2 separate regions of the Homo sapiens genome follow, and region 2 is linked to region 1. The links come from fine-mapping of genetic effects on gene expression. A gene starts in region 1. The other region holds a variant in brackets. All regions are shown on one strand. Distances are between the middles of the regions. Region 1 holds the start of C4orf36 (chromosome 4 open reading frame 36). Region 2 overlaps AFF1-AS1 (AFF1 antisense RNA 1).

Region 1 (2,913 bases):
GTGGTGGCGGGCGCCTGTAGTCCCAGCTACTCGAGAGGCTGAGGCAGGAGAATGGCGTGAACCCGGGAGGCAGAGCTTGCAGTGAGCTGAGATGGCGCCACTGCACTCCAGCCTGGGCGACAGAGCGAGACTCCATCTCAATAAATAAATAAATAAATAAATAAATAAATAAATAAATAAATAAATAAAAATTCAGGCCAAAATCTGTAGTACACTGGTCTCACAGTCCATTGAGGGTTTCAACATTCTTTGTGGAAAGAAAACACCCACTGTCACTCCTCGGTGCTCACTTTTCATTGGTGGTAGAGCAGAAATGCTGAAGAGCGAGTGACAGTCCTCACCTTCCAGTTTCTGGGAGGCACAAAAGCACCTTTGAAAGATGGGTCAGCCCTGCGAGCCTACTCTAATCAGAAGGATCAGAAGTTGCTTGTCAGATGGAAAGGTTACTGTGTTTTATCTTTTTTTTTTTTTTGAGATGGAGTCTCTGTTGCCCAGGCTGGAATGCAGTGGCGCCATCTCGGCTCACTGCAACCTCTGCCTCCCGGGTTCAAGCAATTCTCCTGTCTGAGCCTCCTGAATAGCTGGGACGACAGGCGCGCGCCACCTCGCCCAGCTAATTTTTGCATTTTAGTAGAGACAGGGTTTCACCATGTCGGTTGGCCAGGCTGGTCTCGAACCCCTTGACCTCGTGATCTGCCCCTCTCGGCCTCCCAAATTGCTGGGATTACAGGCGTGAGACACGCGCCCGGCCCATCCACCGTGCCTGGCCCATCTGTGTTTATCTTTAAAAGTTGGCTTTGGAACTTGCCATGTGACTCTGGGCAGCCCTTTAACCACCCTGAACTCATTCGTCGGCTCCACAATTGAAATGAGTAGTATCGCTCTTACCTATTTCATAAAGTTGTTTTTAGGCTCACAATCAATTAGGCATTTATCACGTGGCGGAGAATCTCAGGGCAGGATCTTTCATCCTCAGAACAACCCTCTAAGACATAGAGCATTATCCTTGTTTTATAGATGAAGAAATTGATGCTTAGAGCAGTGACATGCGAAATCTTAAGGTTAAATCTTAAGTGGCAGAGCTAGAATTCCAAACCAGTTCTGACATCAAAACCCTCACTCAAAATGGAAATGTAAGCTCGTTTCATTTGACCGTAAGGGGTGGCCATCTGATGTATTCAAATGAAGAAATACGAAATCACCACAGCGTAATAACGGCTTTAGAAATTGATGCTGTCTTGCTCTGAACACGAACACCTAAAATATCACACGTGGGCTTTGAGCTCACTGCCTTCACCCACTGCAGTGTGAGAACGCTGGCAACAGGGCTTCGGTTCCCCAGATGTCAGCAGCCAGGACTGGGTACATTTCTTTAAATGGCGCCCGCAAACGAAGTCCAGATCGCTTGGATGCAGCCCCCTACATTGGAAAGCGTCCTTCCCAGGAAAGGTCTGGCTTACAGCCCTCTCTGGCTGGTTGGCTGGATTCCGAGAGCGCGGCCTGCCCCGGCCCGGTTACCAGAGAGCGGACCCCGCGGGGCGCGTCTCCCGGGCCCGGCGTCCCCTCCCTGGCGGGTGGGGAGGGCCCCACAAAGCCCTTTGTTGAGGCTCCCGTGTGACGCGAGGAGCCCCAGACTCGGCGCCCGCGGCGAGCGGGAAGGAGGCGTGTGCCTGCGGCGCGGCCCCGAGGCGTGTGCGCGGCCATGTGCGCTTAGCGCAGCGCGCTCTTACCTCAGTACCCCGGCCGCGACCCTCCGAGCCCCTGGAGCCCGGGTAACCAGGCCGCCGGCGCCGGCTCGCGGGGACCCGCCACCCTGGAAGCCCCGCGCACACAGCGCATTCCTGGCGAGTCGGAGGCAGGGTGGGGCCCAGGTGTGGGAAGGAGCCGAGGCTGAGGCCGTTCCCTTCTCCGCGGGCTCTGTGGGCGGCCGAGGCCCCCACCCGTCCCGGGAACCAGTTCCTCCCGGGCCCTGCGCGTCCGTCCGGGGAAGGGTAGGGGACTCGCCCCGAATCGGCGTGCAAGGGCGGGGACGCGGGAGTGGTGCTGAGTGTTTTGAATGAGGGAAAACCTGGGAAGGATTGCTCTGCTCAAAGTGCCCGGGCCGGGGCGGGTGGTTCCTGTGCAGGCAGAGCCTTTGGTCGCTCAGCACTGCCACGATCAGACACATTTTGGCGCAGCGGTGTTGGAGCTGGTTTGGCAGGCTCAGGCAAGGGCAGAGAGTGCGACACCGAAACTTTGTCTCAGGATGACGAAACTTACCTGGCATTTTCTCCTTATTCGGTGGCAAAAAATGAAAAAATGAGTTCATGGAAAAATGAAAGAGAACACGGTTTTACACTTGGGGTTCCAGTTCAATGAACACTTATTAAGGACTTTCTGACATTCAGAATTTTTTTCTATTATTTGGCTACAAAATATTCACGTGAGAGGCATTAATTAGGTGCGTTGCCATCATTTCAGGTAAAGTGAACAGAGTTATCTGTGACATTCCATCAGGCACCTATGTAACGAAATCATACCGTAATAACTCACCATGGCGTATGGAGTGCCAAGAAAGAACACAGTGAAAACCATTTTGCGGGGCAGTTGTTATAATGTGTAAGTACTATTTTTTTTTTTTAAATCAGGGTAAGCATTGACTGCGGTGGGGAGTGTCTTTGTTAAATAAAAGGACTGGACACTCTGTGCTCCCCATGAGATACTGGGCTATGTGAAGTATTTTGAGGTGTCTGGGATCTGATTTTTTTTTTTTTTTTTTTTGGCAACTGCTTTTATAAGTTAATTATCTTACTTGGTCTTTACAACACAACACTTTCAAGTGAGAAAACTGAGGTTCAGAGAAGTTTGATCAAAGTCACAGTCCTGTAGTAAGGAAATGCAAAGGCTAGACTCGGAGTCTTTTTGTTCCAAGAC
Region 2 (2,913 bases), 39 kb before region 1:
ATTATTATTTTTTAAGTTGCCTTTCTCTCTCTTCTGCTGGTCATCTTATATAAATAGTCAATAAGAAGGCTATTTTAAAAAGTGATTACACTATATCTACTTTAAAAAATTTTTTATATCTACTTTTTAAATTTCAGACATAAACAAAAGGAGAGTAATTATGTAATGGAGTTGCAGATATTTAACTTTGTTAGCTACACTTTCCTCCATCATCTTCCTTACAAGAATTCTTAAATTACATTTTTAGCACACTCAATGAAATTCCAGCACTTTCTTAATTTTGACAACCTAATCTCATACATTTCAGATTATGTTTCTAATAAGATGAAGCATGTTTCTGACATCGGTGCTTTTTTTTTTTTTTAACAGAACCCCCCCACCCCCCCAAATAAATCTCCCTTTTAAATATGATGATGGGACTTTTTAGGTGCTTCTTCATATGAGGGCTCCTGGGATGTTACCTGACAATTTTCAGCCATGATTTTACTTAAAATTTAAAAACAAATTAGTTAAACCCCTGGGACTCATAGAAGCTCACAGGATGTATTCTCAGAGCACCTAAACAGCCCATGAGGAGGGAAGACAACATTAAGATAGAGGCAGGTGAGGAATGTGCCCAGCATCACAACATGGACAACTGTTTGGTCAAACTGAAGTACTTCTAAACTCTGCAGTTGTGCAAGATCCAAGCATTTTAAGCCAGCAGTTTAAATTATGTTCCTCCAAATGACTGCATGTATATCTCAAAGGGCATTAACTTATTCTCGCAAAGTATATAAATAAATCTTTTTTTTTTTTTTTTTTGATATGAAGTTTCACTCTTGTTCCCCAGGCTGGAGTACAATGGCACCATCTCAGCTCGCCGCAACCTCCACCTCCTGGGTTCAAGCGATTCTCCTGCCTCAGCCTCCCGAGTAGCTGGGATTACAGGTATGCGCCACCATGCCCTGCTAATTTTGTATTTTTAGTAGAGACGGGTGTTTCTCCATGTTGGTCAGGCTGGTCTCGAACTCCGGACCTCAGGTTATCTGCCCATCTTCGCCTCCTAAAGTGCTGGGATTACAGGCGTGAGCCACCACGCCCGGAATAAATCTTTTTTTTTTTTTTTTTTCTTTTTGAGACAGAGTCTCGCTCTATTGCCCAGGCTGGAGTGCAATGGTGCAATCTCGGCTCACTGCAAGCTCCGTCTCCCGGGTTCACGCCATTCTCCTGCCTCAGCCTCCTGAGTAGCTGGGACTACAGGCGCCTGCCACCACGCCCGGCCAATTTTTTGTATTTTTAGTAGAGACGGAGTTTCACCATGTTAGACAGGATGGTCTC[A/G]ATCTCCTGACCTCGTGATCCACCCGCCTCGGCCTCCCAAAGTGCTGGGATTACAGGCGTGAGCCACCACACCTGGCGGAACAAATAAATCTTAACCTGAGCATATACTTATGATTAAAAATAGAATAAAATAAGGCCAGGCACTGTGATCACGTTCAGAATCCCAGCACGTTGGGAGGATGAGGCAGGAGGATCACTTGAGCCCAGGACTTCAAGACCAGCCTAGGCAACGTAGTGAGTTCCTGTATCTACAGAAAGCAAAAAAATTAGCTAGGCATGGTTGTGCACAACTGAGGTCCCAGCTACTTCAGGGGCTGAGGTAGGGGGATAACTTGAGCCCTGGAGGTCGAGGATGCGTTGAGGTATGATCATGCCACTGCACTCCAGCCTGGGTGACAGAATGAGACCCCACCTCAAAAACAAAAACAAAAAAATTAAATTAAACAGCCAACCCAGACTCCGGGGAAAGCGGTGTAGATGAGGAGAGGGAGATGCTGGCACTGAGGAGGGATGAAAAAGGAGGAAGGATTAGTCTAAGCCAGGTTAAGGGAAGTAGAGGAAGGGCCAGTTCCCAAAAAAGAACAGAAATCAAGAGGAGGAGCGGGACTTCAAGGCAAAGATTATGAGGGGGGCAGTGATATGAAATAGGACAGGAAAAGTCAACCAGAAACTGATAGTGAAGGGCACTACATGCCAACCTACAAAGCTTTCCTTTCATCCTAAATGCGGTGGGTAGGAGATTGATTTGATCATGTGGCATTTTAGAAAGATTACTGAGACTGCCACATGAAAGTGGATTGGAGACAGTCAGGCTACAATTATAATCCCTAAGGTTATGCAAGAAAATGTACAGAAAGCCAGGTATAGATTGTGGGCAGATAGAGAAATTCTTAGTTATCTGTCTCTATCTGGGAGGCAGATATGCAAATGTGAACTTGCTGTAAGAAGAACCAGGTGCACAATTATTATAATTAAAATAACTGTCTGTATTTTGTGATGAATACTTTGCAGAAAACGTGATTCCTAGTGACCTGACATCACTTTTTCTAACAAATATGAGGTTCATATTGTATGTAAATTTTTCCTCATTGCTACACACTACTCCCCAAATCCAGTGGGGACTGTGAATGCTTTTTAGTCATGTAGTTGTATTGTTCAACTGATTTCACATTTAAAGTAGTAATTTGCAAAATTCCAGTGCAGCTGGAACAAAACACAATGTGAGCACAATAATATTTTTTCATCCCCCAAAACAAATGTAGGGATTTAACTGAGTTTCCACAATTTCCCAGACATTGTACACATATAACTTTATTTAATCTCCTTGAAAATGTGGGTATATTGTCTAGTTCATGAATAAAGAAGTTATAACCTCAGAGAGATATTTCATCTTGATCATGATTACATAACCAATTAAATAGTAGAAGTAGAATTTGAACTCAGCTCTTCCATGGCTGAAGGCCATGTTCTTAACACTATACACAAAATTAGATTAGTATAAGTGTTTCAACTAGTGTCTATCAGTGTGAAATTCACATCAGCAGGCTCAAGGGAGCTGGCAATGGGGTTTTCATGCTGACAGTTATATCTGGA

What was found. PIP is the estimated chance that this variant, and not a neighbour inherited with it, causes the effect.
Region 2: its variant is fine-mapped to the expression of C4orf36 in whole blood (TOPMed, PIP above 0.99).

The regions. Positions count from the first base shown.
Region 1 is chr4:86,891,141-86,894,053 of GRCh38, reverse strand. It overlaps C4orf36 (chromosome 4 open reading frame 36), which reads left to right and starts at 1,632. Exons shown (of 5, transcript NM_144645.4): 1 at 1,632-1,871; 2 at 2,461-2,598. The coding sequence starts at 2,534. RefSeq lists an enhancer at 1,235-1,890 and silencers at 1,411-1,950, 2,161-2,220.
Region 2 is chr4:86,930,239-86,933,151 of GRCh38, reverse strand. The region is part of intron 2 of AFF1-AS1 (AFF1 antisense RNA 1); the gene reads left to right. It also overlaps a transcript of C4orf36 not described here. Among named protein-coding and RNA genes, the nearest start is that of AFF1-AS1, 3.2 kb to the left of the region's middle. The variant A/G (reference allele first, on the strand shown) is at 1,321.